Homo sapiens: one gene and its partners. The protein of the gene in region 7 purifies or fractionates together with the protein of the main gene of each other region. This does not show direct contact. Each region holds a gene or a part of one and is shown on either strand. Other genes may lie near its edges.

What was found.
Region 1: the proteins of ACIN1 (region 7) and DHX15 fractionate together in Homo sapiens (co-fractionation; one large-scale study listed by BioGRID). This does not show direct contact.
Region 2: the proteins of ACIN1 (region 7) and SAFB fractionate together in Homo sapiens (co-fractionation; 2 studies listed by BioGRID). This does not show direct contact.
Region 3: the proteins of ACIN1 (region 7) and BOP1 fractionate together in Homo sapiens (co-fractionation; one large-scale study listed by BioGRID). This does not show direct contact.
Region 4: the proteins of ACIN1 (region 7) and SON fractionate together in Homo sapiens (co-fractionation; one large-scale study listed by BioGRID). This does not show direct contact.
Region 5: the proteins of ACIN1 (region 7) and RCC1 fractionate together in Homo sapiens (co-fractionation; one large-scale study listed by BioGRID). This does not show direct contact.
Region 6: the proteins of ACIN1 (region 7) and SNAP91 fractionate together in Homo sapiens (co-fractionation; one large-scale study listed by BioGRID). This does not show direct contact.

Annotation. Positions count from the first base shown.
Region 1 is NC_000004.12:24,557,055-24,560,554, reverse strand, and holds part of DHX15 (ATP-dependent RNA helicase DHX15), read left to right. Parts: intron 1-3,500.
Region 2 is NC_000019.10:5,664,583-5,668,082, reverse strand, and holds part of SAFB (scaffold attachment factor B1), read right to left. Parts: intron 1,038-3,500; coding exon 919-1,037; intron 737-918; coding exon 633-736; intron 264-632; coding exon 197-263; intron 1-196. UniProt on the Homo sapiens protein: Binds to scaffold/matrix attachment region (S/MAR) DNA and forms a molecular assembly point to allow the formation of a 'transcriptosomal' complex (consisting of SR proteins and RNA polymerase II) coupling transcription and RNA processing.
Region 3 is NC_000008.11:144,281,439-144,284,938, reverse strand, and holds part of BOP1 (ribosome biogenesis protein BOP1), read left to right. Parts: intron 1-3,500. UniProt on the Homo sapiens protein: Component of the PeBoW complex, which is required for maturation of 28S and 5.8S ribosomal RNAs and formation of the 60S ribosome.
Region 4 is NC_000021.9:33,546,038-33,549,537, forward strand, and holds part of SON (protein SON), read left to right. Parts: intron 1-175; coding exon 176-342; intron 343-3,438; coding exon 3,439-3,500. UniProt on the Homo sapiens protein: RNA-binding protein that acts as a mRNA splicing cofactor by promoting efficient splicing of transcripts that possess weak splice sites.
Region 5 is NC_000001.11:28,526,543-28,530,042, reverse strand, and holds part of RCC1 (regulator of chromosome condensation), read right to left. Parts: exon of another isoform or gene 3,430-3,500; intron 3,110-3,429; exon of another isoform or gene 2,805-3,109; intron 186-2,804; 5' UTR 177-185; coding exon 104-176; intron 1-103. UniProt on the Homo sapiens protein: Guanine-nucleotide releasing factor that promotes the exchange of Ran-bound GDP by GTP, and thereby plays an important role in RAN-mediated functions in nuclear import and mitosis.
Region 6 is NC_000006.12:83,555,744-83,559,101, forward strand, and holds part of SNAP91 (clathrin coat assembly protein AP180), read right to left. Parts: intron 503-3,358; coding exon 410-502; 3' UTR 400-409; intron 1-399. UniProt on the Homo sapiens protein: Adaptins are components of the adapter complexes which link clathrin to receptors in coated vesicles. Clathrin-associated protein complexes are believed to interact with the cytoplasmic tails of membrane proteins, leading to their selection and concentration.
Region 7 is NC_000014.9:23,088,637-23,092,136, forward strand, and holds part of ACIN1 (apoptotic chromatin condensation inducer in the nucleus), read right to left. Parts: intron 1,998-3,500; coding exon 1,886-1,997; intron 1,466-1,885; coding exon 1,346-1,465; intron 1-1,345.

The DNA of each region.
Region 1 (3,500 bases), on a different chromosome or scaffold from region 7:
TTTTGCTCAGTTTGTCATACATTTCTTTGCTTTATGACACTTCATGCTACATAGAGACTTGAATTTTGTACACGTATTGAATTAACCACTTTTATGATGTCCAGGTTTTGCATCATACCCTGCCCAGTGTTGGTTTAAATAATTTAATCCATGTATTTTACTATTTTGTTTTTGTTTTAAACATTTAACCAAGCTGGAATTTTACTGGGGAGGGATCATAAGCTTTGAGGTAGGGATTTCTGGTTTTCATTTTATAAAAATGATTTTTTGCCTTTCTTAGGCTTAGTTTGTAATTTTTTGGAATGTTTCATAAAATATATATACATATATATAAATACAAAAATATAAATAAGTAATATATTTGCAGGATGTAATGTTTTACCATGGTTTGTTCAAATCAGAATTAGTGATGTGTTAGGTGTCGTCATCTTGCTGAGATCATAGTTGGCAGTTGGCTTGTAGTTATACTACGCCATCTACATGTGCCTGTTGCAAAAAAATACTTAAGCTAGGTTGATACTGTTCAGTACATGGGGTTTTTGGTATATTTTATTAAGCAGTCACAGTTGAAAAGCTGAACTGTTACTTACTCCAAGGATGTTTTTGCTACTTTAGACATCTTTAGGTAATCTGCTTCTTGTTTAATTTGATTAATTTAGACTAGTGTTTCTTAAACTTTAGCAATCATCAGAATCACTTGAAAACTTGTTAGAGCAGATTGCTATGCCTCACCTTCAAAATTTCTGATTAAGTAGATCTGAGATGAGACTCAAGTTTTGTAGTTCTTACTAGTTCCAAGGTGATGCTAATAAATTTTTAAGAGCATCTCTGCCCTAAAACAGTTGGAAAACACTGTAGATAGTAAGGCACCCAGTAAAGTGTGGAGTTTGGCTATCCTGTGGCACTTTTATTAATTCATCATTGAAACTTCAAACTTAAAATTTTACTATTGTGACTCATTCCTTAGCCTGGATAAATATTTCATTACTACTAAGAAAGTTAGTAAAACTTGACTCTTACATAAAGGAAAATGGACTGTAGTTTTTATCTCCAGTGCCTGATTCTGCCTTTCCTGAGTTCTGTGTCAAGTTAGTTTTTTGTTGTTAAGCAAAGGGTTTCATACATTTAACAGTATAGCAAATCGTCAAGTACTGTTTCTTTTTTTTTTTTTTTTTTTTTAGTGGCTTAAAATTGACAAATTCATTCTCTCACAATTCTGAAGGTCAGAAGTTCAAAAACAGTATGTTGGCAGGTTAGTTCCAACTGGAGGCTCTAAGTGGCAATAGTCTTTCATGATTCTCTCCTAGCTTTTGGTGGTGGCTAACAGTCCTTAGCATTCCTTGGCTTGTAGCTTTGTAACCACAGTCTCTGCCTTCATCTTCACGTGGCTTTCCTTTTGTGTTCAAATCTCCCTCTCTTTACATTTTGTAAGGATACTGGTCATTGGATTTAGGGCCCACTCTTAAATTCAGGGCGATCTTGTCTGAAATTTATAACTTAATTACTTCTGCAAAGACCCTATTTCTGAGTAATGTCACGTTGATAGGTACCAGAGGTTAGGACCTGGGCATATCTTTCGAATAGCTTTTTGCTATGAAATTTGTACGTACAATGGGTTCCTTTATCTGGGACTTTGTGAAGAGTGTGTTAATGTAGGAGAGACTTAGGACTGGGAATCAGTACAGTGATACCTAGTCTTAGTAACTGGTTTTGAGAGTCTGGAAAAGTTGACTACGGTTTTTTTCGTTTTCTTCACTGGAAAAGAAGTAAATTTGACTATATCCTTGAGACCTTTGAAATTTTGAAATTTCATTTTTCTTGAAATTATTCATTGTACAAACAGCAGTATCCCATATTAACTGGTGATGCAAGAAGTAATTAAGTGCAGCACCTCATGGAATGGGATCACTGGGTGATGATCAGTATTGAGGAACCATTGGGAATTGTCTGGATGATAGAAGTTTTGGCCATTTAACTAAGTACTTGCAATATGCATAGTTAATAAAGCACAATAAAATATTTCCATTAATCTAATTTATAATATTTATAGTCTGCCATCTGTAACATTTCTTCCCTTAGAAAAATAAAAAGGAATGTCTGTTGGTTAGCTCTGCTCCATATTGTGATTGATTAAAGCTTGAGGAATGTGAGGAGAAAAAAGATCAAAATAAAGAAGGTGACTTTTAAAACTAGTTTTAAGAAGTTTTCAACTTAAAGTCATATTTTATCATTTCTGTGACTTTTTTCTCAAGTTTTTATTGTCTGAAGTTACAATGTGTCTCACAATCTACTGAGGTCTTGTAGTTGGTGGCAGTTTGGTTATTATTGCCTGTGAATGCTTGAACTCGATCTAGCTGTACATATTTTCACCTCAAATAATGTGAATTGTTGGGTCTGTATATACTGAGAGTATTTGCTAATTTAAATGCCTTCAGAAATATTAAATATTACACTATGATTCCATGTTGAAATGAGCACTGAGTATCAAGAGGCTGGGAAATGGAGCAATAGGGTGTAAATATGCTAGTATTTGAGCAAATGTTGGAAGAGTAACCAATCCTTTTTTTTTTTTTTTGCCTTGCAAATCAACAGACCGCTCTATTGAAGCTAAGAGAGGTAACTCACAAATAGAGGAAGCTGTATGTTATGTTCTGCTACTGAGATCATGTACAAGAGTATTGCCTCTCTCGTGTCTGTGATATATCGGAAGACAGGAAAAATTACCAAACGTCCTCAGATCAAAGAAATTTCAAAGCAGCTAAGGGCTATAGTGTTGCTGATTCTTGCACTATGCTTTACTGTCTTTAAGGCACTGAGTCATAATTTAATTGGCAGTGTTTTTTCTTTCCTGGTCTTACATAAAATAACCTTATAGCTAATGCTGTTTGTCCCTCCCAGGAATGTGGTAGTTTATTTTTAAAAATATGACCAAGGACAAGAAGCATAAAGCATATAAATGAGTTAAGATGGATTTGTTTGCCAATAGTTTATGAAATTTAGAATTAAGTTTAGGTGAAATAAAGAGAATTCACTTCTTTTTGTTGTACACTATCAATTTGCTGAACTTAATGCTCCAGCAGATGGCATGAGCTAAAAATATCCAGTTGGTCCATGAAAGATTAGGTTAGACTAATCATAAAAAGAGCCAAAATGGTGAATTCATAAATGATGGCTTCAGATTTTTTAATACCACTTTTAAATCCGTAAATAAAATAATGGGTTTTTATCTAACTGGATGAGCTGTGACTTAAGCATCTAAAGGCATCCTGTGTTTTGTCCAGGTGCCAAAAGGAAGATAGTTGTTTTTCATAGTGACATCAGTAACCAGTGTGGAATGGACAGGAGATAGCTGACCCCTGCAAAGTTATACAATCTTGACCCTTGATCTCATTGCCTTCATTCTTACGTGGCGCCTGTCTTGTGATAACTGGAGTCCATATTAGCAGCCTTCACTTGAGCCATCCCTAACTAAGCCTGGTTTCCCTTTTTGGTTCATTGAT
Region 2 (3,500 bases), on a different chromosome or scaffold from region 7:
TGTTGCCTGCAGGCAGGGCCCCTTCCTAATGCCCTCCCCTCCTGAGTGGCAGCAGCCTCCACAGTACCCCATGCCTGGCCTCACGTCACCCTTGGGGGGAGGGGCACTAGCTGGAAGGACTTGGTTGTTAAGCCTCCAGCAAGGTAGGCCAATATGCAAAGCAGGGGGAAGGGGCGCCGCCCCCAGCATGCCTTACCCTGACATTCCTCCTCGGTTCATCATGTGGCCAGGCCCGGAGTGACCGGACATGCTTCTCTCGCCACCTGGAAGACAGACGTGCTTTCACACAGGGAACTTGCGCACACGGCGTGGAACCCACGGCACATTTAGCCCACTCCACTCCCTTTGGTGAGGCCCCCAGGTACCCACAACTAGCGGGTCCCAGGAAGACACCTGGGCACAGGGACCATAGACGTCCAGCTTCCTCCCAGCAGAGAGAACTCGGGAACGCCCACTGTCCAACTCCTGGGCCAGACCACCAGAGAGCAGGCGGTGTCTGGAGTGCTCTTCATTCCTCATTCCAGCACTGAGAGCAGAGCACCTCCTGTGCTCCCCCAAGGAGAGAAGGCGCGGCCTCCATCTTTCCATCACTCCCCAGCACATCCTGGTCCCAGCCCAGAGCTGCTCCTCACCTTGCCACCTCTTGTGATCCCTGTCCATCATGCCCCCGTCGGCCGTGCCCTGCCATGACCGGTCATCCTCTCTTCGGCCATGGTCCCCCCAGTCACGTCTGCCCCTTGAAAGAGAGACATCTCTGATTTGGATTGCCCCCATCTCTGGCTCTTGTGCTAATAACTGTGGCGGCTTCTGGAGAGTGAATCCCTCTGTGTTTCCCACCCTGTGCCCACATCCCAGCGACTTGCGGGCCCCCTTGTGGGCGGGGGGGGGGTCAGGTACTGTCGGGTGTGGGACACAAACCTGGGGGGAGGAGGCAGCCCCCGGCCCTCGCTCATCCTCTTGTCAGAGCCATAGCCCCCCCAGCCATCGCGGGAGTCCCGGCCGTGGCGCTCTGGTCCTCCATGGCGTTCTGGGTAATGCTGGACATCACAGAGCCAGAAGGGAAAAAAAAGCTTCAGTGTCAGCGCCCAGACCCCAAGGCTTTTCAGGCAACATGCTAACGATGACAACGACAGTCACTCGGGACAGAAGTGCTGGCAGGCTGTATCGGTTCACACAACACAGCTGCCTTCCTGAAATCTGCAGGCCAGAGGCCCTGTGCCCTAGGCTCATGGCCTGGTACAAAAAAGGTACTAGTACCAAGGCATCTCCAAGGCAGGTCCCCACAGCACCACCAGAGCTGGGAGGGCCACCAGGAGTCACCCACTAAAGATGATGCTTACAAGAGAGATTCCCTGGGTCCCACAGCTCAAATGGTTAGTTCCCAGAGCCAACAGTATTCTCTTACTGTCTTCTACTAAAGAAAGGTCAGGTTTATAAACCTTTAATGTGTGCATATTCTGGAAATAATTTTTACAAATTTCTTCCTTCCACAGTGAAGGAAGTATCAAATGGAGCCCTTCATCCGACCAATTGCTAGGCAAGCATCCTTCCTCACAGTCAAGTTTCTCGGAAGTTTCTGCTGGATGCCCAGTCCAGGGTCTTGCACCTTGCTCTGCTCAGGATATAAGACACAGGACACTGAGAGATAAACGGCTGGCCTTCCACTTGGCTAGTCCCACCTTTCCCTCTTCTGTGTCATTGTTTTTGTAAGCCACGTGGCTAACACAGACCAGGAGTTCTTGACCCTGCTGTTTCAGGGAAGACCAAGAGAGGGCGAGTCACACTCTATGCCTACTTATTTGATGGCCAAGGTTAATATTTACACCCACAGCCTATTTCTGTGGCTGGAAGCACTTTCCAGCCTGACTTTCACAAAAGCTAGTGAGGTAGCTTTGGCTCCACAGTCCTGTTTTTTCTCTTTCCACCAATACATATGTGGTCTCTGGGGTTTTTGCCCCATGACCACATTGTAGGTGAAAGGAAACTAGAAAGGAGTCCTGGTAAGGAAACCCCCTTGACACAGGCTGGTTGTTGTCCATGTCCAAGTTCACCTCCCCGTTCAACGGAGAGCTCTGCCAGGGTGAAGGGAGAGATGGCGGCATGCTCCACCACGTGCACGATGTCCCACGTTACCACTGCCTGCTTCCTGGCCTATCCTCCCAGCATGTGCTCTGATGCCTCCCCTCAACAAAGTAAGAAAAGGGACTCCTGAAATAAGCTCTCCTTAGTATTTGAAAATTGAACCAACATTTTTCTGTCCAACCAACCCACGTAACTGTTCAATGAGGCCCATAAGTTCTGTGCTAGTTTTCTCTGTAGGGAGATGTTACCATTTCCCTTTGGGGTAACTCTGACGACTCATTTATGACTGTGTATGTGAGGAGAAGGGATCAAACCGCGTTCCACTGTTAGGAGAGCATATCTAACACCTTCATGAAAGCAGCTGGTGGCCAGGTGTGCTGGCTCACATCTGTAATCCTAGCACTTTGGGAGGCCGAGGTAGGAGGATCACTTGAGCTCAGGAGTTCAAAACTGGCCTGGGCAACATAGTGAGATCCCGTCTCTATTAAAAAAAAAAAAAAGTAGCTGGCAATGATAAACACGTTTGTACAGATGCGCCCACCTCATGTAAACCCCCACCACCGCACCCTTTGTAGGAGGAATATTACCCTCATTTCACTCCTGGGGAGACAGGCTCAGCAGGAAGGGGTGACACCAAGGTGTGACGCCAGTTCTGATTCTGGAGCCTTTACATGGAACCATTGGTGTATGCTCCTCCACCAAAGAAAATCCACAAGACTAGTTCTACGTTTTGCTGCATATAATTTGCCTCCAGGAGCAGGGAAAAAGGAACCCCACGAGGCTGATGGAATTCCTGAGGATCCCGAGACAGAGCTGAGTACTTGGCTATGCTCAGCCACATTAAGGAACCAAGGGGGACAGAAGCGGGAAGCTTATGGTGGAGTCCAGAAAATGCTGGCAGGAGGAGGAAGGGCTCATGAGTGGAGTCCTCAGAGAGGAGGCATCTTCCACACAGCAATGTGCTGCCCCCAAGTTTATAGGGAAAGCCACTAGAGGTCCAAGGCTCTCCTGGGAAGTCTCAGTCTCAATGTAAGATGGAAGGAGAAAATGGAGCTTATTGTTCTAATGTGCTAGCCCCCGAAGAGAATGAGCACAGACCACAGATCTAGTTGTTTTCCAAGGCTAAGCTGGGCCCTGGGGTGATGAAGGATGTCCTTACTTTCAAAAGAGGGCAGGCACTCGAGGACAGACACAGCAACCACAGCCTCCCCAGATGCACCTGTCTGAGTCAGCTGTGCGGCTCACTAGACACTTCCCAGCAGAGCCAGGTCACATCCCAAGGTTCCCTGGCACTGTTGCACATGTGTGGTGAGTGTGGCACACAGAACCCCAGGGTCAAGGCTAAAAACAGCTTCAGAGTAACTGTTTGGACTGACAGCCAAGACTAACCCCAAATAATCCCAAATTTCCATTCCACA
Region 3 (3,500 bases), on a different chromosome or scaffold from region 7:
CCTGTGGAGACCTGGCGACCTGCCAAGGGCTCCGGACCTGCCTGGGTGGACCCAGGGTGGGCGTGCTTCTGGCTGCAGGGCCGGGCCACAGGCTTCCCTCTGGCTTTCTGCCCTCAGGCCTTTAGCATTGACATGCACACGACCCTGCCTCCTTTCTAAGGACTGTGTAGAATTACGTGGCATTCAGTGAGCAGCTGCACGTGGTGTTCTAGGGCACCTTTGGATGCTCAGGTGCTCCTGAGGGGTGTGCCAGGGAACGAGTCTCCTACCCTTCCCTCCTGGCTCCTGTTGCTGCATCCAGGCAACTACTGTTTCCAGTGCTGAAGTCTCTTTCCAGGATGTTCTAGACATATCCAAACTCGCACAGAGTTTTTGAATGGTGGTTTCTTAAGAGAAGGGGCAGCCGTGCGCTGTCTCAGGATGGTTCTGTCAGGGAGGCCATGGCTCTGGTTTGTACAGTGCTTGGTGCCCGTAGAGTGCCTGGCAGCTCGGCCTCAACAGCTCCAGTGGGTGGGCAGTTGCAGGCTTTTGCTCTTACAGTTGACCTGACAGTAACATGCTGTTTCTCACATGTGCACACCATTCTTGGGGAAAATTCCAAGAGAATTTCTAGGTCAAAGGATAAATGCTTTTTTTTGTTTGAGACAGGGTCTCACTCTGTCACTCAGGCTGGAGGGCAGTGGTGCGATGTTGGCTCACCAAAATCTCAACTTCCTGGGCTCAAGGGATCCTCCTACCTCAGCCTCCCTGGTAGCTGGGACTACAGGGTCCCCGCCACCATGCCTGGCTAGTTTTGTTTTGTTTTGTTTTGTTTTGTTTTTTGAGACAGAGTCTCGCTCTGTCGCCCAGGCTGGAGTACGGTGGTGCAATCTCGGCTCACTGCAACCTCCACCTCCTGGGTTCAAGTGATTCTCCCGCCTCAGCCTCCTGAGTAGCCGGGATTACAGGCGCCCGTCATCACGCCCGGCTAATGTCTGTATTTTTAGGAGAGACGGGTTTCACCATGTTGGCTGAGCTGGTCTCGAACTCCTGACCTCAGGTAATCCACCTGTCTTGGCCTCCTGAAGTGCTGGGATGACAGGCGTGAGCCGCCGCACCTGGCCATCAATGCATTTAATTGTGAAGGTGCTTGGAGCGTCCCTCCGCTAGGCGGTGATGCCATGCACTACTGCAGCCGCCCCTCAGCTGCTTTCCCACCACCAGCCTCCCTCATGGTGTTGCTGCTTCATCTTTTCCTCTTGTTTAGTGATGTTTTTCTTTCATTAAGAATGAGGCTCGCACAGCTGGGCTTAACTGAAAAAATAAAAATAAAAAGAATGAGTCACAGGCTGGGCCCAGTGGCTCACACCTGTAATCCCAGCACTTTGGGAGGCCAAGGCAGGTGGATCTCTTGAGCCCAGGAGTTCAAGACCAGCCTGTGCCATATAATGAGACCCCATTTTTACAGAAAATTTAAAAAATGAGCCAGGCATGGCGGTGCGTGCCCGTGGTCCCAGTCCCGGAAGCCCTTCTGTCTCTTCCCTGTGGCGGCATCATCCATGCACTTAGCTGGCTGGAAACCCTCATGGCTGTTGCCCAAGGGCAGGACAGCTAGCTGGTTCTTGTCATTTTGGTCTGAGCTCCCTGGGCCAGGAGCCCTTTGCTGTTTTCTCTCTGTTTGTTTGTTTTGTTATCTGGCACCACAACAAACTGCCCCAAACCATGGAGCCTTTCTTTTTTTTTTTTTTTTTTTTTTTTGAGATGGAGTTTTTTTGCTCTTATCGCCCAGGCTGGAGTGCAGTGGCACAATCTCGGCTCACTGCAACTTCTGCCTCCTGGGTTCAAGCGATTCTCGTGCCTCAACCTCCTGAGTAGCTGGGATTACAGATGCCAGCCACCACGCTCGGGTAATTTTTTTTTTTTTTGTATTTTTAGTAGAGAGGGAGTGTCACCATGTTGGCCAGGCTGGTCTTGAACTCCTGACCTCAGGTAATCCACCTGCCTTGGCCTCCCAAAGTGCTGGGATTACAGGCGTGAGCCACCGCACCTGGCCACCATAGTGCCTTTCAACAACGAGCATTTGCTGTCTGTGTTTCTGGGGTCAGGAGTCCTGGTGTTTTGTGAGGTGCACTCAAGGAGCAGGGTCTGGCTGTGCCCTTTGCAGCTCCTCCCCTGACTGTTGGCATGAGGAGCTCAGGAGTGAAGGTGAAGAAGGGTACTCTGTGTCTGGGGGGTGGTCAGAGGATAGGGATGAGGACAGGGACAGGGCCCAAGAAGATGGGGTGGGTGCTGTACCTCCCCCTTCCTTCCCTGGGGTATCTGTGGGCCACGGCAGGGCCCACAGCTGTTGCTAGTAGCCTCCTTGGGGCCAGTGGGTTTGATTTATTTTTGTGTTTGTGTGGTTTGAGGGCAGGCATCCCTTCCCCACCCTTTGCGTCCCTGCTACAGTGACCCCTCTTTCTGGGTCCACCTGCTCTGGCACGAGCTTGGTGGGCCAGCCTCACCCCAGGGCCCACCCCATCTCCAGCCTCCCTGCCTTGGGCCTGGCAGTCCTGCCTCTTAATTGCGTTCTGTGCCACCTGATGACCCACGAGTTCTGTCTCCTGGCCTGGTTCCTACTCCCTGGGACTTTCTGCAGCCCCTGCCCTTCCAGCTGTTGACTGTGTCTGCGAGCCATCCCACTGGAGGGGCGCCCTGGGCTGTGTGCTCCCTGCCCTGCAGCACCCCTGACACGGGTGCTCCCAGCCCTCCACTGACCAGCCAGGGAGGAAGCTGCCTCCTGCCGGCCTGTGCCTCGCTTCCTGTCCCCTCTCCAGCAGCACACGGCAGCGCGGGCCGCGGGCTCACCGGAGCGAGGACTGGTTGCAGGGCCTTCTCTTTATCGCTGGTGTCTAGTGGATCTGTGGGGTCCGTGCGCTCAGAGCTGTTTTTTCCTTTCTGTGCTCATTTAGATTCATTTTTTTCCCAGCTTTGCTTGGTTTTGTCTTTTCATTTATGTGAGTTTTTCTTTTTATTATTTTGTGCAGAAGTTTCTGTTTTTATCAGTTAATCTGCTTGTCACAGTCAAGAATGTGAGAAAAGACTGGATGCGGTGAGCCAAACCTGTAATCCCAGCACTTTGGGAGGCCAAGGTGGGCGGATCACTTGAGGAGTTCGAGACCAGCCCGGCCAACATGGTGAAACCTCATGTGAATTGCTTGAGCCTGGGAGGCGGAAGTTAGAGTAAGCTGAGATCATGCCACTGCCTCCATCCTGGGTGACAGAGTGAGTGGGACTCTGTCTTGAAAGAAAAAAGCACTAGTAAGAGAAGGCCTAAGACCTAGTATTAAAGTAAGAGAAGGCCTAAGACCTGGTATTAAAGTGAGAGAAGGCCAAAGACCTGGTATGAAAGTGAGGGAAGGCCGAAGACCTGGTATTAAACTGAGGGAAGGCCGAAGACCTGGTATTAAACTGAGGGAAGGCCAAAGACCTGGTATGAAAGTGAGAGAAGGCCGAAGACCTGGTATTAAACTGAGAGAAGG
Region 4 (3,500 bases), on a different chromosome or scaffold from region 7:
TGTCCAAAATATAAGTAGATCATGGTAAGAAGCATTATTAGTGGTGAATATCTAAAATAGGAAAAAGGTAAAACATCTGACAGTCAGTACAACATATGATTATTGTAATTAATTGGATTTTTTTATTAATGGTATGATAAAATATTAATGAATTTCGATAACTTTTCATGTCAAGTGGAAGGAATGAAGGCCAGCTGAATGGTGAAACAAATACACCCATTGAAGGAAACCAGGCGGGTGATGCAGCTGCCTCTGCCAGGAGTCTACCAAATGAAGAAATAGTGCAGAAGATAGAGGAAGTACTTTCTGGGGTCTTAGATACAGAACTACGATATAAGCCAGGTAAGTTGGAGATAATTAACTGTCTCAAAAATTTTCTTTTAAGATTTTTTTGAAATTTGAAGGTTAATGTTAGTTTTTGACTTCAGTATTTAAGATATTTATTAAATTAAAAACTTTAGGCTGGGTGCGATGGCTCACGCCTGTAATCCCAGCACTTTGGGAGGCTGAGGTGGGTGGATCACCTGAGGTCAGGAGTTCCAGACCAACCTGGTCAACATGGAGAAACCCCCATCTCTACTGAAAATACAAAAATTAGCCGGGTGTGGTGGTGGGTGCCTGTAATCCCAGCTACTTGGGAAGCTGAGGCAGGAGAATCGCATGAACCCAGGAGGCGAATGTTGCAGTGCGCTGAGATTGCGCCATTGCACTCCAGCCTGGGCGACAAGAATGAAACTCCATCTCAAAAAAAAATTTTTTTTTCAGTAAATTTAAGCTTTTGTTTAATTGATTTAATGAAGACTTTCTTGTTTAAATTTTCCTTCCATACTTCCACTGGAAAACAAACATTGATGTACTTGTTTACTCTGCTGGTAGAATATAATTTTTATTTTTGACTTAGTTTCAGTTTATTTGATTCAGTTTCTTTTTCTTTTCTTTTCTTTTTTCTTTTTTTTGAGACAGTTTCACTCTTTTTGCCCAGCCTGGAGTGCAATGGCGTGATCTCGGCTCACCGCAACCTCCGCCTCCCAGGTTCAAGTGATTCTCCTGCCTCAGCCTCCCAAGTAGCTGGGATTACAGGCGCCTGCCACCATGCCCGGCTAATTTTTTTTTGTATTTTTAGTAGAAACGGGGTTTCACCGTGTTGGCCAGGGTGGTCTGGTCTCGATCTCTTGACCTCATGATCCGCACACCTTGGCCTCCCAAAGTGCTGGGATTACAGGCGTGAGCCACCGCGCCCGGCTTGATTAAGTTTCTTAGTATCAGGAATTTGAGTATGGATTTTTATTAAACAGTTGTGTAAAAATACCCATCCCACTTAAACTGCAGTGGATGGAGAGGAATCATTGCTTGAATATTTAGCGTTTTTGGAATTGATTAATTGATGTTTAGAAATGAAGGATTTAGCCACAAAAATAACAGTCATTACCTTGATTTAGTTCTGGAATCAAGTTTGTAATATGGTTGGTTTGTCCTCTTTTTTGGGGGGAACTTTAGCTGTGCTTAGATTCATGACTCTCAAACAGACTTGCTTAGATTCATGGCTCTAACAACCTTCATTGAAGTATGACTTATCTAACATTTTGTATTATGAAACAAACAATTAATAGAAAATGGTAAGTTTTGCTTTGGCCTATGTCAAGTGTTGATTTATTTTCTTCTGTAGTCTTTTTTTTTTTTTTTTTTTTTTTTTTTGAGACGGAGTCTCGCTCTGACGCCCAGGCTGGAGTGCAGTGGGGTGATCTCAGCTGACTGCAAGCTCCGCCTCCCGGGTTCACGCCATTGTCCTGCCTCAGCCTCCGGAGTAGCTGGGACTACAGGCGCACACCACCACGCCCGGCTAATTTTTTGTATTTTTTTTTTTTTTAGTAGAGACGGGGTTTTACCGTGTTAGCCAGGATGGTCTTGATCTCCTGGCCTCGTGATCCACACGTCTTGGCCTCCCAAAGTGCTGGGATTACAGGCGTGAGCCACAGTGCCCGGCCTTTTTTCTGTAGTCTTAATGGCTCAGATTTCTGATGAGCTTTTTTGGGGGTCCCTAAGATTTATCTAATTTGATATTGGCATTAGAGTAAATAAATCCCATCTGGTTGTTAAAGTTGAATACTCCCATCTCTTTAGGGTATGTAAATTCAAACCTTCTTAAGTTGTAAATTAAGGACTAAGAATTTCCTCTCTAAAATCAGTATTCTTTTCTAAAATAGAAACATTTGAAAAGTTATTTATTAGTGGTTTTAGAATAGTATTGGGGGAAAATGTTATCTCTTTAGGGTATGTAAATTCAAACTTTCTTAAGTTATAAGGACTAAGAATTTCCTCTCTAAAATCAGTATCCTTTTCTAAAACAGAAACATTTAAAAAGTTATTTTAGTGGTTTCAGAATAGTATTGGGGGAAAATATTATTTTTATTAGAATGTAACGTAGGCATGATAAGGTAAAATTTGAGTTCTCTATGAATATTTTATATTTGTTATTCAGATATTTTTATACTCTGTAGAAGCAATCACTAACCTTTGTTGAAAGCTTATTCTGTGCCAGGCATTATTTGATGTACTTTGCATGTTTTAACTCACTTTATCCTCTAACTCTAGAAGACACAAGTGTGTCAGTAATTTGGCCAAGACCATTAACCTAGTAAGTGATGAACTGATTGAGGATTCAAAAGTGGCAGTCTGTTCCAGAGCCAGTGCCATGTTGCTTCCTGTATAAACAAGGGTTAATAATCGCAAAAATTATATTATGTGGGTATTTTTAATAGAAACTGTAGCAACTAATAACATGAAATATATTCAGTGACAAAAGTAGTTTAAAAGTAATTTTGCTATGATTTGAGAGCTGGAGGGAATAATTATTTTAATAGAATTTAGTGAAACATGTCTTAATGTAATTCAAAGTAAGTTTTGGTGTTTAATAATTTATTTTTAACCCAGGCATTAGTTGTGGAAAGAATTATCAGAAAAGTAGTAGTCTCCAGGTTAACTGTTTTATGAAAAATAGTTTATTTGGTAACTTTTAATTTAACGTGAGGTGTTATACTGTGGGGTTTTTTTTTTTTTTTGAGACAGAGTCTTGCTCTGTTGCCTAGGCTGGAGTACAGTGGTGCAATTTCAGCTCACTGAAACCTCGACCTACTGGGTTCAAGTGATCCGCCTCAGCCTCCCAAATAGCTGGGACTACAGGTGCGCGTCACCATGCCTGGCTAATTTTTGTATTTTTAGTAGAGATGGGGTTTCACCATGCTGGCCAGGCTGGTTTTGAACTCCTGACCTCATGATCCACCTGCCTTGGCCTCTCAGAGTGCTAAGATTACAGGCGTGAGCCACTGTACTTGGCCTGTACTAAGGTGTTTTAACATGGAATGTAAATATGGGTTTATATGATTTAATCTAACTCTACTTTGGGGAATGTCTGACAAAATTAATTTCTATTACTTTTAGACTTGAAAGAGGGCTCCAGAAAAAGTAGATGCGTATCTGTACAAACAGATCCTACTGATGAA
Region 5 (3,500 bases), on a different chromosome or scaffold from region 7:
CACACCCTTCAGCTTCAAGCCTCAGGAAGAAAGGAGCCCAGTCCCGGGTTCTTAGGGTTTCAAGGGGCCACCTGTACCCACAAAGAGGCCAAGGCCAACTTACCCTTCACCTTCTTGCTTTTGGGGATGGCATCTGCTGGGGGGGACCTTCTTTTAGCTATGCGCTTGGGTGACATCTTCCTGTCCTGAAAGTCAGTCAAATACTACATATGAGAAATGGCAAACATTTTCCTGGGCCAATCAGACAATATTTATCAAACACTCTAGAAATACGTTAAGAGGAATTGCCCAACAATTCCACTTCTCAAAATGTATCCCAAGAACAGAATAATGGATGCACCCACAGATTAATTACACAAATATTCTCTACTGTATCCTTCATAACATTTTAAAAACAACAAAAACAGAACCCGAATGTTCAATAGTAGTGAACTAAATATGTGGTATATTCATGATAGAACAGTATGAAGCCATCAAAAGTGATGTTTTCAGAGATCAATCTATTGAATAGAAAGATGTTCCCCATTGCCAAGTAAAACAAGCAGAATGAAAAACAGACGGCCAGGTGTGGTGGCTCACATCTGTAATCCCAACACTGTGGGAGGCCGGGGCGGGCGGATTACCTGAGATCAGGAGTTCCAAACCAGCCTGGCCAACATGGCAAAACCCCGTCTCTACTAAAAATACAAAAATTAGCCAGGCACAGTGATGGGCACCTGTAATCCCAGCTACTCAGGAGGCTGAGGCAGGAGAATCGCTTGAACCCGCGAGGTGGAGGTTGTGGTGAGCCAAGATCGAGCCACTGCACTCCAGCCTGGGCAACAGAGCCAGACTGTCTCAAAAAAAAAAAAAAAAAAAAAGCCTGGGCGCGGTGGCTCACGCCTGTAATCCCAGTACTTTGGCACTTTCGGAGGCCAAGGTGGGTGGATCACTTGAGGTCAGGAGTTCGAGACCAGCCTGGCCAACATGGTGAAACCCCGTCGCCACCAAAAAAAAAAAAAAAAATACAAAAATTAGCCAGGCATGGTGGTGTGCGACTGTAATCCCAGCTACTTGGGAGGCTGAGGCAGGAGAATTGCTTGAACCTAGGAGGTGGAGGTTGCGGTGAGCCAAGATCATGCCATTGCACTCAGCACTCCAGCCTGGGAGAAAGAGTAGTGAAACTCCACCCCCCAACCAAAAAAAAAAAAAAAAAAAAGGAAGAAAAACAGCCTATCATCCATTTTTTTTTTTTTTGGAAAAAAAATGCATACACAAAAAATATGTGAGAAAAATGTGGGGAAGAAAATATATCCCATATTAACAATGGTAACCTCGGAAAATGGTATTATAGATAATCATTACTTGTTTCGTTTTATCTTCCTATATTATCTAAGATGTTTAACAAGGAGCATTACATGTATTTTTCTGTTTTTTGAGACGGAGTCTCACTCTGTCGCCAGGCTGGAGCGCACAGGCATGATCTCAGCTCACTGCAACCTCCACCTCCCGGGTTGAAGCAATTCTTGTGCCTCAGCCTTCCGAGTAGCTGAGATTACAGGTGTGCATCACCATGCCCTGCTAAGTTTTGTTTTGTTTTTGTTTTTTTGAAATGGAGTCTCGTTCTGTCACCCAGGCTAGAGTGCAATGGTGCGATCTCGGCTCATGCAACCTCTGCCTCCTGGGTTCAAGTGATTCTCCTGCCTCAGCCTCTCGAGTAGCTGGGATTACAGGCACCCACCACCACACCCAGCTAATTTTTGTATTTTTAGTAGAGACGAGGTTTCACCAGTTTGGCCAGGCTGGTCTCGAACTCCTGATCTCAGTGATCCACCCCGCCTTGGCCTCCCAAAGTGCTGGAATTATAGGCGTGAGCCACTGTGCCCAGCCCAAATTTTGTATTTTTAGTAGAGACGGGGTTTCACCATGTTGGCCAGGCTGGTCCCAAACTCCTAATCTCAAGTAATCCACCTGCCTCAGCCTCCCGAAGTCCTGGGATTACAGGCGTGAGCCACTGCGTACAGCCGATTACATGTTTTTTTTTTTTTTTTTTTGAAGCAGAGTTTTGTTCTTATTGCCCAGGCTGGAGTGCCATGGCGCAATCTCGGCTCACCACAACCTCTACCTCCCAGGTTCAAGTGATTCTCCTGCCTCAGCCTCTGGAGTAGCTAGGATTACAGGCATGTGCCACCACGCCCGGCTTATTTTGTATTTTTAGTAGAGATGGGGTTTCTCCATGTTGGTCCCGCTGGTCTTGAACTCCTGACCTCAGATGATCCACCCACCTTGGCCTCCCAAAGTGCGGGATTACAGGCGTGAGCCATCGTGCCTGGCCACATGTATTTAAAAAATTTTTAAGTCTGTTGTAAAAAATTAAAACATTGAAGAACAACATTAAATGAAATATCCATCATAACTCCATTCAACCCCATGTAAGCACCAGTAACTTTGGTAATGTGTTGTTATAATCAGAGGGGGAGAAGAGCTATTTTCTTTTCTTATTTAATTGATTGATTTTTTTTAGAGACAAGGTGCCACCACACCTGTAATCCTAGCACTTTGGGAAGTCGAGGCAGGAGGATCGCTTGAGCCCAGGAGTTCAAGACCAGCGTGGGCAACATGGCGAAACCCCATTTCTATCCAAAAAATTACAAAAATTAGCCGGGCATGGTGGTGCACGCCTGAAGTCCTGGCTACTCAGGAGGCTGAGGTGGGAGGATGGCGTGAGCCTGGGAGGCTGAGGCTAAATTGAGCTGAGATTGTGCCACTGTACTTTAGCCTGGGCGAAAGAGACAGACACTGTCTCAAAAAAACAAAAACACACATGCACTGAAGATCGCGGCTGCTGTGGGAAGGTTACTCTGAGCATCAGTTGCCCGGCATGTGAGTGCCATTCCTTGGGGGCATTTCTGCCACTGCAGCCCTCAGGCCTGCTGCTTCTGGAAGAACAAGTTTGACAAACATATTGTGGTCTGGTTCCGGTCAAGCAAAATTCTGGTACCAGTTCCTCATACCATGCACCTGATGTCACCCAGCATGCGCCCTATTTTAAGGGTACAGCCGTGGTCAATGGAGAGTTCAAAGACCTAAGCCTTGATGACTTTGAGGGGAAATATTTGGTGCTTTTCTTCTATCCTTTGGATTTCTTTCTTTTTTTTTTTTTTTCCGAGACGGAGTCTTGCTGTGTCACCCAGGCTGGAGTGCAGTGGCACGATCTCGGCTCACTGCAACCTCCCCCTCCTGGGTTCAAGCCAATTCTCCTGCCTCAGCCTCCTGAGTACCTGGAATTACAGGCGCCTGCCACGACGCCTGGCTAATTTTTGTATTTTTAGTAGAGATGGGATTTCACCATGTTGGTGAGGCTGGTCTTGAACTCCTGAACTCAGGTGATCCACCCACCTCAGCCTCCCAAAGTGCTGGGATTACAGGTGTGAGCCACCGCGCCCAGCCCTATCCTTTGGATTTCACCTTTGTGTGTCCTACAGAAATTGTTGCTTCTAGTGACAAAGCTAAGGAATTTC
Region 6 (3,358 bases), on a different chromosome or scaffold from region 7:
AAATAAAAATACAATTATGCAGTCAAATATATTCTTAGATGATTTCTAAATGCAATAGTATAAATGTTAGCTTTCTATAAATTCAAGTCATCATGTAATAAAGTGGTAATTTTCTAATTTACCAAGTAGCTTGGGCACCTTTTTGCTTTATTAAAGCTAATCGTTGTGCTTTCCAGGATAAGGACAATTTGGAGGTTACTTTCCCTCCTAGTTACATAAATTAAGATTTAAAAAACTCTTAAAGAGAGCTTTTAATATCAAATTTAAAAGTATAAACACTCAAATTATTACTATTATACACAGCTATTCAAAACGCAGAAATAATGAGTACCTCTGAAATAGCTAAGCATTGTATAGCTCATTATTACAAGCCTACAGGAAAAGCTCAATATTAGATACCTTAAATTGTTTACAAGAAATCCTTGATGTTAAGATCCGCTAATGGGTCCTTTGCTGGAGGTTTCTTGGGACTCTGACTGGCAGGTGTAGGGCTTGGAGAAAGCTAATGGGAAAAAGCCAGCCCCAAAGAGCAGGAATAGAAAGCAGAGAGAGAATGAGACATGGGGGGAAGAGGGGGCAGGGGGAGAGAGGGAGAGGGGGAGAGAGAGAGAGAGAGAGAGAGAGAGAGAGAGAGAGAGAGAGAGAGAGAGAGAAAAGCATTAGGCAGAACACATATCAAAGAAAACAAACCTGCAGAAGATTAGATGGTTAAAGGCTTATGAAATCTACTTGTTCTACATAGTCACAGAGTTGTGTTTAATTCTGGACTGGTAAAATATACTTCAACTGATATTTGGCTTTCTTGAACTTCTCTGACATCAGATTTAGCCAAAGTAAAATTTGGGGACTCCAGTAGAACAATATGGGTATGACTTAGGGAAGATGTGAAACACTAGTAACATAAAGATATTATGAACAAACAGTAAAACAAACAAACAACCGTTTTCTCTATACAAAAGCATTTTTACTTTCAGTCATTAGTACCTCTAAACTAATAAATCTATTTAAATGGCTTTTCCTGTAGTGAGAGTGAATTTGAAGGAAAAATAGGAAACGGTTTGCAGAAAGCTATTTAAGAAATTACTTACACTTATTAGCTAAATATACTAGAATTTCATATACATTATTTTAAGTGAAAATCAGTCAAGTTTGAGGGCACTGTTTGTTTCACATGACCAAATAGTTTCCTGGTAGTGAATGCCACTAAAATTCTAATGCAATCTATTCAGCTCTCAGAGAAGGCCAAAACTAATTATTAAATACTATAGGAAAGAATCATATTGGACTTGTTGCAAAAGTAACAAATAATTAACTTGCCTTGTTTCTGTTTAACCAGAATCTAAATTATTTTTTCATTGTGTCACAGATATAACTTCTGGGAGCTGACTTTTACAGGATACAAGGTCTTGAAAAATCTCATGTAGTTTATAGAGTAATAGTTGACATCTAGGCTTTGAGTCTAATTAATCTCCTATGCTTGTAGTAACATGCTGGGACTGTGGGGCAGTGTTGTATATTTTTATTAGTTCAGTGAACAGAGTTCCAGAAGTATGGATTTTGAGATTTGGTCCTATGTCCAGAAACTACTGACTAATTATATTATCTATCTGTCAAATTTCCATGTTTAAAACTGGGATATGGGCTGGGTGTGATGGCTCACATCTGTAAAATCCCAGCACTTTGGGAGGCCGAGGCAGGAGGATCACTTGAGGCCAGGAGTTCGAGGCCACCCTGGGCAACAAGGCAAGGCCTCATCTCTACAAAAAATAATAAAAAAAAAAATAGCTGGGCACAGTGGCTTGCATCTGTGGTCCCAGCTACTCGAGAGGCTGAGGTGAGAGGATCCCTGTTGCCTAGGAGTTCAAGGCTGCAGTGAGCTATGACTGCACCACTGCACTTCAGCCTGGGCAACAGAGTGAGAACCTATCTCAAATAAACAAATAAGCAAACAAAAAAATAACAACAAAAAACCTGGGATCTGTTTCATAGAGAGAGATATATATATAAATAAAGTAAGGCTTGAACTTCCTTAAATCAATTCAAAGATTGGTCCATAATTGATAATTAGGTGAGATGACAATATCATGATACCAGCCAATGAAAGAATGCTGCGATAGTCCAGGCATCAGTAATAAAAAAACTACTTTGTTTTCTGAAGCTACAAACTCACATTTATTTTATTATCTAGTATAATTATGCTTCTTCTCTGATATAGGAAATATAATCTAAAAATTACATAAATATGGTGTATCATTACCTGGCTTATTATGAATTCAATTACTGATTGAAACAATGTATTCCCATCATACTATCTATTTTTCATTTTCATTCTTCTAATTAAGTAAATAAATTGTTGCTAACTTTGGTATTACACAATAAAAACAACTGCCTTAAGTAATAAAATTATATTTATTTATTTCTGAAGCTTTCAGTATATCAAACACAATAAGGTTAAAAGAAATCTCAGTAACATTGTTCCAAGTGCATAATAACAGAAATATTTCTTTTTTTTCAAAAAGATGATAGTCATGGAACTATTCAAACATCAAGGAAATATTTATGATAAATGAGATCCCTTAGAATTTAAGTATATCTAAGTTATACCTAACCTCAACCATTATACCCAAAACCTTCCTGACTGTCCCCAAAAACAACACTACACAGGGTTCACCAGTCTTCACATAGACTAGAAAATTTCTCCTGAAGCCAGTTATGGCCAGTAATGGCCATGAAGGCTAGGGTTTCTCACATTCTAAATTTCTGTCTTTCAACATCCACCATTCTTTCTCTTGGTCCCTGTTGCTTTTGAGGGGCAAAGTGAAGAAGCTGAAAGGAAATTTTGGGAACAGGTCAATGGATTTAGAGATGCATCAAGGAAGCAAAAGGGATTAAAGTATACTCAGAAAGTTCACAGCAGCAGGTATTCCATGGATAAGACAGTATAAATACTGATTTGATAAGTTAAAAATATTATAGGACTGAAAACATTTACTCATATCATTAAAATATATTTGAGCTATTTGCTCTAGTTTGTAAAGCATGCTGCTACCAAAGTAGTAATTTGGTGTCCTGCCCATCCAAGTCAATTTCTCATGATGAAAACTTCTTTGGTTCTACATGTAACATCACCTTGGCCAGACAATTTAAAAGAGGAATCAGGAAAGCATGATTCATCACTAAGACTAGCACCACTAGCAGCAAAACGGTTCAACAAAGTGTAACATATTTTGGCATTTTTGAAGGGTAAGTAGCACAGTGTGTAGTAAGGAATTTAGCTTTACCTAAACTGAGGTTTTTTCCTTTGCCCAGAAAGGGAACCTCTAAATCCTTATAATTTCTCAAATGATAGGCATGTCTT
Region 7 (3,500 bases):
GATTCCGCATCCCCCTCAACACTAATTATTCAAAATACTTGTTAAGTTACACATTGGTTTAACATATGTACTAACAATCCACATGTCTTATATACATATTAAGTATCCCTTTTCCAAAATGCTTGGGATCACAAGTGTTTTAGATTTTGGATTTTTGAATATTTGCATTATACTTTCTGATTCAGCATCCCTAATCTGAAAACCCAAAATCTGAAATGCTCTGATGAGCATTTCCTTTGAGTGTCATGTGAATACTCAAAAAGTTTTGGGTCTTTGGATTAGGCATGCTCAACCTGCACATATTTTCCTCAAAGTATACTGACTTAGACAGGTAGTTCCCAAAAGACAAAGGCTATATTTATAGACTTTTGCTTGAGATATTATGCAAAATTGGGTGCCTATTATGATTTTATGTATTTTTTGAGACACAGTCTCGCTCTATTGTCCAGGCTGAAGTGCAATGGTGCAATCTTGGCTCACTGCAACCTCTGCCTCCCGGGTTCAAGCGATTCTCCTGCCTTAGCCTCCCGAGTCACTGGGATTACAGGTGCCTGCCACCATACCCAGCTAATTTTTATATTTTTAGTAGAGACAGGGTTTTGCCATGGCTTTTTCACGGTTTTTCCAGGCTGGTCTGGAACTCCTGACCTCAGGTGATCCTCCTGCCTCAGCCTCCCAAAGTGCTGGGATTAGAGGCGTGAGCGACCACACCCAGTCTGGGTGCTTAATATTTTCTATAATGTGAAGAAATTAATTAATCTTGCCTGAACCAATCCCATATACTAGGTTAGAGCTCCCTACTATAATATGCTCACATAATACTCTGCGTTGCCTTGCACAGTAGCCAAAACAACTGTAACTAATGTCCATGTCCTCACTAGACTAAGTTTCTTGGGGCTGAGACTTGTTTCTTTCTTTACTATATTCCTCGTGCCTAGCATGTGCCTGGTATACAACAAGTACACAATAAAAATTTGTTGATTAAACCACAGCAGATACCCAACTCCAGAGGGTGACTGAATGTGTTAACACGTAATATACACAACTGGTGAAGAGATGAAAAAGAGCTGACTGTTGCCAAATTCAGAGGTAGAAGAGTTGAAGAGGTACAGATGAGAAGAAAAATCACACTGCTTCGTAAAACACTGAGAAGGTAACACAATATATAGGTGAAAGCAGACTTCAAAAAGGGTATACTTTCCATGAGAAACAGATGTCAAATATCAATGTCACAGAATTTCCCTGGGACTTTCATGGAGGCTTAGCATGAAAGGAGGTGTAACTACCTCCCCCCACCAACTACGCAGGATTGACAAAACAGCGCAGTGGGGAGGGAGATACGTACTGGGCGAATGTCTGCTGAGCTCCAGCTCTGGTCTCTCCAGGCTGCTCTGAAAGTCAGGAGGCAGCAGGGAAGCCACTCCCTCAGGATGGATCATCTCGTCCTCCGACTCAGCTGAAGCTTCTGCAAAGTACAGATCGGGTCGGGGCAGGGAGGGAGTGAAGGACTCAGCATGTAGGAATATGTAGAGGAGTGAAGGAGGTCAGGCAAAGTCACAGATACAGAGATACATACCAAAAAGAGCACCGTATAAAAAGAAAAAACTCCCTGGGATTCAGCTCTACTTCATCTAAATGGTAGCTTAATTTACTTATAACTCTTCCTGTTGGCAGGAATCCTCTTCTAACAAGACAGTCAAATTAAGTGTCCTCTTCCCTGACAAAAGTAAATAGTAAACCACTTGGCTTCATGGGCTATGAAAGCAAGTAAGTAGCAGTCTCAGCCTCACTTATTTCTGAAATTGTCTAGTTAGACAGGCCTATCTACTTGGTGACAGGGATAAGAATGACGAACTCCTTGTTAAAAGTGACAATCTGGGCTTACCTTCAAGTTCTGCAGCTTCTCGAGCTTCACGTTCCAGACGCTGCCTAAGTAGCTCCTGCTGCTTTTCCAGATACTGTTTTATGAAACTGTTCTGGCTCATTTCCTCACCAATCTGTGTAGAGGAAATGAAAACAGAGGGTCTAGGAAAACAAACCAGGAGAATGCAAAGAAGAACATTCCATGGAGCAAAGGTCCACTCCTTATAGTTGCGCCCAAGAAAGATAACTAAAATGTTGGAAGGCTTTTTTCTAAGTTAGTTCTATATTGAAGAACAGAATAGCCTTGAGTCACACACAAAAAAAGGGCAAAAAGAAGAGCTGCACATAAGTTTTTGATTTAAATATTCAGTTCCCAAAGAGTGATACTGGTATACAAATTACTATTCTTTATTTTTATTTTTTGAGACAGAGTTTCACTCTGTTGCCCAGGCTGGAGTGCAGTGGCGTGATCTTCCCTCACTGCAACCTCTGCCTCCTGGCTTCAAATGATTCTCCTGCCTCAGCCTCCTGAGTAGCTGGGATTACAGGTGTGCACCACCACACTCGGCTGATTTTTGTATTTTTAGTAGAGACGGGGTTTCACTATGTTGGTCAGACGGGTCTCAAACTCCTGACCTCAAGTGATCCACCCGCCTCAGCCTCCCAAAGTGCTGGGATTACAAGTGTGAGCCACCGTGCCCAGCCACAAATAACCTTAAATTAAAATTCCTGTAATTATATCTTTTAGGCTAAATTCCTAGATTACGTGGAACATTATCTAAAGGGTAATCTAAAATTTCCTTTTGGTAGTATCAAGACTGAAACATGGGGGCTCACGTCTGTAATCCCAGTACTTTGGGAGGCTGAAGTGGGAAGACTGCTTGAGCTCAGGAGTTCAAGATCAGTCTCAGCAACATGGCAAAACCCGTCTCTACCAAAAATACAAAAAGGTGGGCATATTGTGGTGTGAGTCTGTCATCCTGGCTACTCAGGAGGTGGTGGGTGCAGTGAACTGAGATCGTGCCACTGCACTCCAGCCTGGGTTAAAGAGCAAGACTCCATCTCAAGAAAAAAAAAAAAAAAAGCCAGTTCCTCCAAAAGATCAACCGTTACCTATCCAGGAAACATTTTTTTTTTTTTTTTTGAGACGGACTATCACTGTCATCCAGGCTGGAGAGCAATGGCGCGATCTTGGCTTGCTGCAACCTCCGCCTCCTGGGTTCAAGACATTCTCCTGCCTCAGTCTCCTGAGTAGCTGGGATTACAGACATGTGCCACCACAACCAGCTCATTTTTGCATTTTTAGTATAGACGGGGTTTTGCCATGTTGGCCAGGCTGGTCTCAAACTCCTGACCTCAGGTGATCTACCCGCCTTGGCCTCCCAAAGTGCTAGCATTACAGGCGTGAGCCACAATGCCCGGCCTCATATCCAGGAAACATTTTATCAAACAACTCCAAAATTCAAGTATAGTATTTAAAAGTATGAAATCAAGAGACTAAGAAAAGGGATATCCATTCAGCATTTAGACAAAGTTATAACTCCATTTTGTCTGGGTGAAAGGAAATCCTTGGTAACAGGAGCTTATGCCTTTTCCTATTTTTTTTTTTTTGTAATACAGATTCCCAAGTTGCCCTT